3 linked regions of the Homo sapiens genome follow. The protein of the gene in region 2 purifies or fractionates together with the protein of the main gene of each other region. This does not show direct contact. Each region holds a gene or a part of one and is shown on either strand. Other genes may lie near its edges.

Region 1 (3,648 bases), on a different chromosome or scaffold from region 2:
AGCAACAATCCTTTGCCTTAAACTATAAAGGGAGCAGAAGGGGTTCCAAATATCAAACAAGAAAATGAGTTGGTGCAGAGGAAATGTATATTTCTCTTAAAGGCTAATATATACGCATAACAAAAAGCCAAAGACTAACAGATCTTTTTTCTTTAAACACACTGAGAACAAAGCCTAGGTACTTATTTTTGTAAAATACATTTTTCTTGGAAACAAACAACTAATTTATAGCAATGTTAATAAATAATTCTAATAAGAAATTATAGGAGCATATGCTGAAAAATAAGTTGCTTGGATGCAATATCAAGTCAAAACAATAAAACAGCAGATTTTTCTGATGACAAATCTATAAAATATAGCAAGTTCAGGGATTTCCTGTAAAGTAGGTGAGCAAATTGTGGTATACAGCAACCAAATATTTATCTCAATGCACTGTTTAAATCTTTAACTTGTAGGTCAAATCATTTATAACCTTCAAGGGAGACTTGAACCACTTCATCTCAAATAATTTTATTTCTAGTAATCAAAATATCTGACAAAATACGTGGGAAATTTTCTTTCCTGTGTTGAAAAATGAAGTTTGCATTTATTCACTAGGGCATGTTGACCAAAATCTGTGGATCAAATTTTATATAAAAGAAGAATTCATTCTTTAAATGAAAAATTTACCAAAAACTTAGCACGTCAAACAGAGAAAGTATAACTTTTTTTTTTGAAATTTAGGTGAGAGGCTGTGGTTCAGGATGATATTTCAGAGCCTAGTGTAAAATCACTCCTGTATTCTTTTGTATTGGATGTTTGTTTGCCTCCAGAATTCCTATGCTAAACCCCTAGCCTCCAATGGCATGGTAGTAGGAGGTGGGGCCTTTGGGAGGTAATTAGGTTCAGATGAGGCCATGAGGGTACAGTGCCCCTGCTTAGTGTCTGTCTTTATAAGGAAAGAACACGACTAGAGCTTGCTCTCTTGGCCATGTGAGGACACAAGAAGGCTAGACAGTGGTCCCTCACCAGACATCAGATCTGCTGTTGCCTTAATCTTGGACTTCTCAGCCTTCAGAACCATGAAAAATAAATGTTTGTGGTTTAAACCACACAGTCAATGGTATTTTTGTGATAGGAGCTTGAACTAAGACATGCATACACATACTTCTAATTTTACTTCTGACTGGACTGGAAGTCAAAGCTTGTAAATGACTATGAAATAAAACATTCCTGTTGATATCAGTTAATTTGTAACTGCATATATAGCTTTCTGTGATTTTTGCCCAATGATCATAATATTTCCATAATATTTTTAATTCAGTCAATATGGTGAAAATTTTTACTCCGCTGGGAAATTGACATGTAAAATTTACATAGTTTGATCAGAAATAATGATTGCTGCCCACAGAAAATGCCAAATTATTAAATTAACACATCTAGCCACATATATATTCATACAGCAACTGCATGCTCACACAGGTGTAAAGTAGCTAGTACTTTTAAGAACAGCTTAATCTATATAGGACATCACAACATTAATGCTTTCACATTAATTATATCATTAATCCTTAAAATACCCTGTGTAAGGAACAGAAAACCAAATACTGCAGGTTCTCACTTATAAGTGGGACCTAAATGATGAGAACACACGGACACATAGAGAGGAACAACACACACTGGGGGCCTATCGAAAGGTGGAAGGTGGGATGAGGGAGACGATCAGGAAAAATAACTAATGGATACTAGGCTTAATACCTGGGTGATGAAATAATCTGTACAACAAACTCCCACAACACAAGTTTACCTATGTAACGAACCTGCACATGTACCCCTGAACTTAAAATAAAAGTTTAAAAAAAATACCCTGTGTAGAGCAAAGGTTGTCACCGTGGTTTGTAGGCAGGCTGAAACTGAGATTCAGAACAGTAGCATGTCTGAAGGTGTCAGAGCCACATGGGAATGCCCTTCCCGGCGTTGTTAGGTTCTATCTCACTGTTTTTTGTTTTTTGTGTTTTTTTTGAGATGGAGTCTCACTCTGTTGCCCAGGCTGGAACACAGTGGTGCCAGTGGCACGATCTTGGCTCACTGCAACCTCCGCCTCCTGGGTTCAAGAGATTCTCCTGTCTCAGCCTCCCAAGTAGCTGGGACTACAGGCACCCACCACCATGCCTGACTAATTTTTGTATTTTTAGTAGAGAGGGGGTTTCACCATATTGGCCAGGCTGGTCTGGAACTCCTTGATCTCGTGATACACCCGTCTCAGCTTCCCAAAGTGCTGGGATTACAGGCATGAGCCACCGCGCCCGGCCCTTTTTTTTTTTTTTTTTTAACGGAGTTTTGCTCTTGTTGCCCAGGCTGGAGTGGAGTGGAGTGGCGCGACCTTGGCTCACTGCAACCTCCGCCTCCTGGGTTCAAGTGATTCTCCTGCCTCAAGCCTCCCGAGTAGCTTGAATTACAAGTGTGCACCACCACATCCAGCTAATTTTTATATTTTTAGTAGAGACGGTTTCTACATGTTGGTCAGGCTGGTCTCGAACTCCTGACCTCAGGTGATCTGCCTGCCTCGGCCTCCCAAAGTGCTGGGATTACAGGCATGAGCCACCGCAACCAGCCCTATCGCACTATTTTTAAGGACACTTACAACAAATCTTCCAGTTTTGTTAGAGCAGCCGTAAAGCCGAGGTGGATGGTCTTCAGCCTGGGTTTCCAGTAGTGGTGAGGTCTGGTAGTCTTTTTTCCCTCCAAGGGAATTCCAGAACTCCTCTGTGGAAAACACACTCAGTTATCCAGTGCATTTTCAGGGACATATGCTTGCTGTCGCTTTATATGAACAAATATTATCTCACCTTGATTTCAGTGTTGAGAAATTACTTAAAGAAATCAGGTACCATCACCCACCCACCTCTGCAACTAATGGAGAGATTGTTAACCCTTATAAGCCATTAGAAAGTGACTTTTTGGTGAAAAAAAGATGATTAGCAATCGTATCAGTATAAATTCTAGTTAGTGCCCTTGGCCCCAGAGCACACACCTGGCTCCTCGCCTTCTTGGATCCTTAAGGTTTTGCACTTTAGGACACTTGCTACATACTCTGCTCCTTTCTCCTCCTCCTGGCTAGCACCTTTTCCTACCCAGATGTAGCCACTATTTTGTGGCAGTTTCAGGACAAAAACATCGTTAGAATTCAGTGAATTTGCATCAACATCAACCTGGAATATGAAGAAAAATAAAACAATGATTCAAATTCATTGCTGCTCCCTCAATAAACATGTCCCAGAAGCTGTGACTGTGGCAAACCATACATCGCCTTCTGCCCTATCCCAGGAAATTAATTCAGAGCCGCTCTGGGACACCACTATGGTATTTTAAACCCTAGAGTAGGAGCACTTCGGTCTGTGTCACTTGTGGATTTGTGACTCTGTGTCTGTCTCTGTGAGAACTGTCTGACCATATGACTGTGCTACTATGTCACTGGTATGACTTTCTGTATAATTGTCAAACAAGTGTGATGTGTGATTCCAGAAAGAGGAAGAAGAACCAGTAAGCAAGACTGAGGGGGAGCAGCTGAGACGGAGGAGGAAAACAAGAGCGTAAAGTGATCTTGAGGCCAAGTGAGGAAAATGCTTCAAGAAGGCAGGGGTGATTTGCTGTGCCAAATGGTGCTGC
Region 2 (3,420 bases):
TGCATGGCCTGCCTGTAGTCACAAGGACACGTCAGACAAACCCAGCACTGAAAGTGCCAAGGCCACAAAAGACAAAGCCAGACTATGCAGTCGCCCAGATTAAGGAGGGCAAGCAGGCCAGGCTTGATGTGTGGTCTGATCTGATCTGGACGTCTGAGGAGCACATGGAATCTGGATGGTCCCGAGAGGTGATGGTCCTGTGTTGGTGATTACTACCCCCTGCTGCCCATTGTCCCATGGCTGGACAAGATGCTGACATTGGCAGAATCTGGGTGAAGGGTGTTGAGGAATTGTTTGTGGCTTTTTTTTTTTTTTTTTTTTCCCCGAGATGGTGTCTTGCTCTGTTGCCCAGGCTGGTGTGCAGTGGTGCGATCTCGGCTCACTGCAACGCCTCCCAGGTTTAAGTGATTCTCCTGCCTCAGCCTCCAGAGTAGCTGAGATTACAGGCATGTGCCACCACCCTTGGCTAATTTTTGTATTTTTAGTAGAGACAGGGTTTCACCTTGTTGGCCAGGCTGGTCTTGAACTCCTGACCTCAAGTGATCCGCCCACCTCAGCCTCCCAAAGTGCTGGGATTCTGGCATGGGCCACTGCTCCTGGCTGTTTGTGACTATTTCTGCAATTTTTTTGTAAGTTTGAAATTATTTCACAGTGAAATGTTTTGAACTTTTTAGAAAGAGGATGTACCATTCAAAGATGGAAGGGTACGCCAGGAGCTCGGTGGCCCTGGGCTCTGGGGGTGTTAGCGACCCTCCAAGCCTGGCACCAAAAAAAAAAGCCCCTGACCCACTTACCAACCCAAAACCCTTGGCCGCCCTGGGGGACCAGGCCCAAGCCCTGGCGTAGCACTGGAGACCCTTCCCACGCTGTCGCTGAAGCACTCACAGTCCAGCCCCATCTTTGGCCACCCTCTTCTGTTAGACCAGCAAGTCCCAACTGTGCCAGGTAACACCCAGGAAGTGTGTGAACATTGACAGCTCCAGGGCTCACCTCCAGCTCTGCTGAGTCTTGGATTTTTTCAGCCGCTCCTGGTGATTGGAGAACACCTCCAGACTGGCCGTGAGGGCCGCAAGGGCAGGGCCGTGCCTGTGCTGTCTCTGTCTCACGTCTTCCAGCCGTGCAGACCTCAGCACTGTTTGCCCCAGGACTGCAGCTCGCTCGTCTTCTAAGCCAGCACTTCTCAAGTGGGGTCCCCATGTTGTTAGTAATATGGGTTCTCAGCTCTGCCCCAGACCTGCTGGATCAGAAATTAGGGGCAGGGCCCAGCCTTCAGCGGGTAGCAGCCCTCCCTGGGAGGCTGAAAGCATCCATTTGGGAATCCTCCTCCTCCCCGCTCCTCCCTCCTCCCCCCCCGCCTCCTCTCCTCCTCCTCCTCCCCCCCTCCTCCCCCTCTCCTCCTCCTCCCCACGCCCCAGCAGGCTACAGATCCAGAACTCTGCTTTCTAGGAGGACTTCAGGGCTCCCCTCCTTTGTTGGTGGAGCTCATCTCTGTGGCGTCCATGGCCTGGAGCCCCATGGCCTCATCCTGTGACCTCAGGGTCATGCTGTCATTTATTCGTTGTTCCTAAACACCCACTTCTCCCTGGAATGACCACAGGAGGCCTCAGCACAGGGACAGGCCGTGGTCACTGTACACACAGATGGAATGTCAGTGCTGGGGTATCTGGGGAGGAGCTCTGAGAGGAGGAGGCTGAGGGTCCTGAAGCCCCTGCCCCGTGTCCCTGACACAGGCTGGGCTGCGAGAGTGGGAGCGGGGGACTTGGGGCCCTTGTGGAGCTGACAGGTGGCTCCGATATCATCACCCTGAGGCTGGTGGGGTTCTTTCCCCTGTGCTGCGTGGGGGTGCGGGGCCATCTGTGAGGCTCAAGGACTGAGCGGGGACCCAGGGAGGTCTCAGGGACTCGCAGCTGCCATGCCCAGCACCACTGCTGCAGCTCCTGCCACTGGCCACTCCTTGCCCTGCTGGCTGCCCCTGCCCCACCATCCCAAGTGTTTGCCTTTGGTGAGGGCTCTGCACCCGTGGTGGAAGAGTCGGCTGTTCCAGGAGATGAGAAAGACGCTGGATCCTATAGAGCTGTGTGTCCGCGCTCTCGAGGCATGCTCCATGCTAGGAGGATGTATTCTGGTTAAAGATTCGTCTGCGGGAGCAGAGGAAGGGCAGGGACAGGGGTCTGGGAGCTCTACTCCATTTGACATTGCTGCCCGGGTGTGGCCCGCTTCGGGGTCAGGGGGCACCCTTAGAACCTGTGCAGGGCAGGAACTGCCACCATCTGTTGGCCACACATTTCTCAGTGAACAAATGACTTTTGGCATCAGAAAGCCATAACTTCACACCTAAACTTCCACGAGGCTGAGCTCTTCCTGCCCCTCTGTGTGTGTACGTGTGTGTGTGTGTGTATTGAGGGGACGCGGCTGCTGGCCACCTTCTGTCGGCACAGGTTGGCGAGGCTTCATGACTGCCCAGCCCATGCAGTCCAAGAGTCCCACAGCCCAGCCCATGCCCAGGCTCATCCACTGCGGCGGGTGGCCTCTGCCAGGGGAGGCTAGGAAACCCCAGTGGTGAGCCTTGGCCTTGGGATCTGCCAGGACTGTACCCGGGATGGCAGGGAGGGCGAGCTTTGGTCCCTGCAACTTGGAGCCATCTCTCTCTCTCCTGCTGTCTGTGGGTCTGAGAACCCCCAGCTCGTCCTCCCCCCTCCCCAAACCTATGACCTACAACTGGAGCCTCTGCCCACTTCTCCCTCCAGGGTTTCAAAGACAACCTCCACGCTGTGTTCTGCTTGGCTGAGAACTCGGTGGGGCCCAATGCGACAAGGCCAGATGACATCCACCTGCTGTACTCAGGGAAGTACGTCTGGCCCTCCCACTCCTTCCTGCCCACTGTTGGAACTCGCGACCCTTCCCGGCCTGCAATGCCAGCTCACTCCAGGCATATCGGGAGGGCACTCAGCGTTGGGGTCCCCTGGGCAGCAGGCTCCTTGCTTCCCGGAGGGCTGGGGAGCTTTGGTAGCAGGCGCACCTCACGTTGAGGGGCCCATGGCACCTGGATGAGGTGCTAGGCTCCCGTGCAGTGCCTGGCCCAGGAGCTCGTGGTCTACCCTGCATTACCAGGACAGGTCTTTCCAAAATTTAGGCCTGAAATCTTTGGGTGTGTGAAGCTCTGACCCCCAGATTCCCTGCTCGGGGACACCTCCTGCATCTCCCCCTTGAGATTGACCCTGGAAAGTCAAAGCTGAGCTGGCAGCTGAGGAGCAAGTGGCTCCAGAATTCAAAAGAGAAGAGCCCTCTCCCCAGCCCCATGAGCTGGTGCCTGAGTGGGCGCCTCCCCGCATCTCCTGCTCTTCCTCCCCATCTGCCGGGTGCCAGGCACAGTGTGCTGAAGGCCAGCCCAGCCGGTTCATGCCACCCACTTTACAGAAG
Region 3 (4,399 bases), on a different chromosome or scaffold from region 2:
CTCCAGCAAGAGGCCCAGATGTCTGGCTACAAAAGAAGTCAAGAGGATGAAGATCCCACAGTGGGGAAAGCTGACAGTATTAAGGGTCCCTTAATCTGGCTGGACTGCATGCATTAAGGACTGAGGTAAACGGATCTGACGTACAGTCCTGCTCAGCCTCTTGGCTGGGTGACCTTGGGTACACTGTCCCACCAGGATCTGTTTGTTCATCTATAAAATGAAAAGGTTGGACTCAGGTTTCTTCTGCCTCAGATGTTCCATAAGACTAGGAGGCTGCGCTGCCTAAAGTTCGTGCACCTAGAGTGCTGCCTCTGGTTTCACCAACATGGAAATATTAACAGGCCAGAGCCCAAGTCAAGAACTCAAGAGGACACGCCTCTTCCTCCTGCCAGAGTACCTTGGACAAAAGTATTCACTGCTAAGCACGTAGAACTGAATTCTTCAGTCTAAGACGGAGGTCCCATTTCTCTCTTTTTTTTTTTTTTTTTTTAGACAGAGTCTCACTGTTTTGCTCAGGCTGGAGTGCAGTGGCGTGATCTAGGCTCACTACAACCTCCACCCCTGGGTTCAAGCTGGAACTACAGGCATGTTCCACCATGCCCAGCTAATTTTCACATTTTTAGTAGAGACGGGGTTTCACTGTGTTGGCCAGGCTGGTCTCGAACTTGTGATCCTCCTGCCCCAGCCTCCCAAAGTGCTGGGATTACAGGCGTGAGCCACCACGCCTAGCCTGATCCCATTTCTTTCTACATCAGACAGTAGCCACTGTAGATACTGATACTGTCGACAGTCAACATTCCCTGATCTGGGATGTTCATCCTATGTAGTTCCTTTTTTTTTTTTTTTTGAGACAGAGTCTCCCTCTGTTGCCCAGGCTGGAGTGCAGTGGCATGTTCTCAGCTAACTACAACCACTGCCTTCCAGGTTCAAGCGATTCTCCTGACTCAGCCTCCCAAGTAGCTGGGACTACTACAGACGCACACCACCATGCCCAGCTAAAATATGTGTGTGTGTGTATATATATATATATATTTTTTTTTTTTTTCTTTTTTTGAGGGGGAGTCGCGCTCTGTCACCCAGGCTGGAGTGCAATGGCGCGGTCTCGGCTCAGTGCAACCTCCACCTCCCAGGTTCAAGCGATTCTCCTGTCTTAGCCTCCCAAGTAGCTGGGACTACAGGCGCATGCCACCACGTCGGCTAATTTTTTGTATTTTTAGTAGAAACGGGGTTTCACTGTGTTCCCTAGGCTGGTCTCGAACTCCTGAGCTCAGGCAATCCACCTGCCTCGGCCTCCCAAAGTGCTAGGATTACAGGCATGAGCCACTGTGCCCGGCCTAATTTTTATATTTTTAGTAGAGACGGGGTTTCACCATGTTGGTCGGGGTGCTATGGAGTTCTTTTGCACCCAGACATCTGGGGCCTCTATTGCCGAAGCAGGTGACAGCTTTCTGCCCTCAGACTCTGGTCTACTCCATGTGATCACTCCAATAAATTAACCCTGGGAGACCCTTTGCAAATTAGGCTAGGCTTGATATTAAACGTGGCCACCAAAATTCTGGGCCACAGGGAGCCCACAGAAAGGACTCTAAGGTCCCAGAACTACTAGGTTCAAACAATTCCTTAAGTTCATTGAATGTGCACAGCATATCCAAGTCAAACCGTTTCATTAAAAAATAAAACACTGAGCACTTCTATGTTGAAGCTATTGCTTTTGCATATTGTTGTCGTCTCAAAAATCCTATCAGGTGGACAAGACAGGCACCTTTGGGACCATGTTACAGAAGCAACGGGTGGCATCAAGGGATGAGGTGACTTGCCTAGGGTCACAGAGCTAATAACCGAAAGAGAGTTGGGGCCACAATTCAGATCTTCCTACTCCTAGTCCAGGGCTCTGGAATGACTGCAAGAGCAAAGATCCCAGCCCTCACCAACAGGCTGGACAGGGGGAGATTAGCAGCTCCCCATCTCTTTCTTATCTCGGCCTGGCAGTGGCCTCCACCAGCTCTGCAGTTTGTCTGTGCACAAGCCCAGGGCTCGGCAAGCAGGCTCGTAATGGAAAGGCCCACGGCGGCCTCCCACCCACGGTAGTAATTCAGTAGGTGTGTCACAGCTGGGGACTTGGAGCGTTGGCTGTGGCTGGGAGACCACTATAACACAAAAAGAAGGCGCACTTCTAAGACGTTTGTGTGCAGTTCGGAGGCTTGGCTGATACTCTCTCCTATGAATCAAAAGTGGAACGTGTCTTCCCAAAGGGGCCGTATCTGCATCCGCCTCAGCCCAGCCTCGAATGAAAGGACCCCGTCTGTGTAGACGAACGTTCTTGGTCTGGGTCACTAAATCTAGAGCCGTGCATCCCAGGCCTGATGGGAATCCCACCCAGATGCCCGCAGGGACCGGAGTTCCGTTCCAAACAATCCTTCCACTCTTAACCCAGTATCACCGCTCTCTGATTTCCCCATTCCTTCCGGAGGGCAACCGAGCTACTGGCCCTTTAAAAGCTACTCGGACCAAAAAAAAAAAAAAAAAAAAAAAAAAAAAGATAGCCGTTCTGACCAATAGACGACTGAGGATGGCAACCTGGGGCCAATCGCTGCACGGCTCGTCCAGAAGCCCAAAGTGTGCTGGTCACCGGCTCAGCACTCACCGCCGTTGCAGCCGCATTGCCGTTACCAGACATGGCTCCGCTTGGAAAGTAGGCTGTGTGTGGGTGCCGCTAAGGTCCCCCGGCCCCGGGAAGCCGGGGGCTCCGGCCGGCGAGTACCGGGGACACGTGGGACCCGAGGTCGTCCTACAGTCTGACTCCTGGTCTCCGCAGAGCCTCGCGTCACTTCCGGCGCCCTCCCTCGAAGGGGAGGTCCCTCCCTCTGGGCGGGAATTGGAACATTGCGACAGTGGACCTCCCCATTCGACCACCCCATTCCCCAGCTGTGACATGAGCAAGTAGTGCAGCTTCTATGGCGCTTCCTTTGCTCTGTTCAAACTTAGCTTTGCTACAACCTTGAAATAGGCAGCATTTTTCTTTTTGATACGGGGTCTCACTGTGTCCCCAGACTAGAGTGCAGCGGCATGACCACGGGTCACTGCAGCCTTGACCTCCCGGCTTCAGCGATCCCCCCACCTCAGCCTCCCAAGCAGCTGGGACTACAGGCGCACATCACCACGTGGGACTAATTTCTAGATTTTTTTATAGAGACAGCGGGGAGGTGGCCTCACTATGTTGCCCAGGCTAGTCTCGAACTCCTGGACTCAAGCAGTCATCTCGCCTTGGCCTCCCAAAGTGCTGGGATTACAGGCGTGAGCCACTGGCCCAGCCAGCATTTCAATTCTTAAAATGAGGAAACTGGTTCAGAGAGATTAAAGGTCATGCCTAAAGACAAGTAACTGAAGTGGGAGCACAAACGCTACATGTAGTGAGAAAAGGGCTTGTTAGGAAAAGTGCTTTCCCATGAACATAATTTTTTTTTTTTTTTTGAGACGGAGTTTCGCTCTTGTTGCCCAGGCTGGAATGCAATGGCACGATCTCAGCTCACTGCAACCTCCGCCTCCCGGGTTCAAGCAATTCTCCTGCCTCAGCCCCCCGAGTAGCTGGGATTACAGGCACGCACCACCACACCCAGCTAATTTTGTATTTTTGGTAGAGATGAGGTTTCTCCATGTTAGTCAGGCAGGTCTTGAACTCCTGACCTCAGGTGATTCGCCCACCTCGGCCTCCCAAAGTGCTGGGAGTACAGGCGTGAGCCACCGCGCCTGTAATCATGAACATAATTAACAATCATGATTATTAATAATCACCCAGCTAGGTGCAGTGGCTCACACCTATATTCCCAGCACTTTAGGAAGCCAAGGCAGGAGGATTGCTTGAGCCCAGGAGTTTGAGACCACCCTGGGCAACATGGTGAAAACCTCATCTCCACAAAAAATACAAAAATAGCCAGGTGTGGCGGCACACACCTGTAGTCCCAGCTATTCAGGAGGCTGAGGTGTGAGGATCGCTTGAGCCCAGGAGGTCGAGGTAGCTGTGAGCTGTGGTGGTGCCACTGCACTCTAGCCTGGATGACAGAGTGAGACGCCCATTTTTTTTTTTTTTTTTTTTTGAGATGGAGTTTCACTCTTGTTGCCCAGGCTGGAGTGCAATGGTGCAATCTCAGCTCACCGCAACCTCCACCTCCCGGGTTCAAGCAATTCTCCTGCCTCACCCTCCTGAGTAGCTAGGATTACAGGCACCTCCCACCACACCCAGCTGGTTTTTGTATTTTTAGTAGAGACGGAGTTTCACCATGTTGGTCAGGCTGGTCTTGAACTCCTGACCTCAGGTGATCCGCCCACCTCAGCCTCCCAGAGTGCTGGGAATACAAGCATGAGCCACCGCGCCCGGTGAGACCCTGTCTTAAGAAGAAAA

The links.
Region 1: the proteins of NPEPL1 (region 2) and SCIN fractionate together in Homo sapiens (co-fractionation; one large-scale study listed by BioGRID). This does not show direct contact.
Region 3: the proteins of NPEPL1 (region 2) and HMBS fractionate together in Homo sapiens (co-fractionation; one large-scale study listed by BioGRID). This does not show direct contact.

What each region holds. Positions count from the first base shown.
Region 1 is NC_000007.14:12,643,681-12,647,328, reverse strand, and holds part of SCIN (scinderin), read right to left. Parts: intron 3,192-3,648; coding exon 3,014-3,191; intron 2,746-3,013; coding exon 2,624-2,745; intron 1-2,623. UniProt on the Homo sapiens protein: Ca(2+)-dependent actin filament-severing protein that has a regulatory function in exocytosis by affecting the organization of the microfilament network underneath the plasma membrane.
Region 2 is NC_000020.11:58,709,732-58,713,151, forward strand, and holds part of NPEPL1 (probable aminopeptidase NPEPL1), read left to right. Parts: intron 1-2,747; coding exon 2,748-2,848; intron 2,849-3,420. UniProt on the Homo sapiens protein: Probably catalyzes the removal of unsubstituted N-terminal amino acids from various peptides.
Region 3 is NC_000011.10:119,083,312-119,087,710, reverse strand, and holds the start of HMBS (porphobilinogen deaminase), read right to left. Parts: upstream 2,831-4,399; 5' UTR 2,678-2,830; coding exon 2,645-2,677; exon of another isoform or gene 2,554-2,644; intron 1,901-2,553; exon of another isoform or gene 1,818-1,900; intron 1-1,817.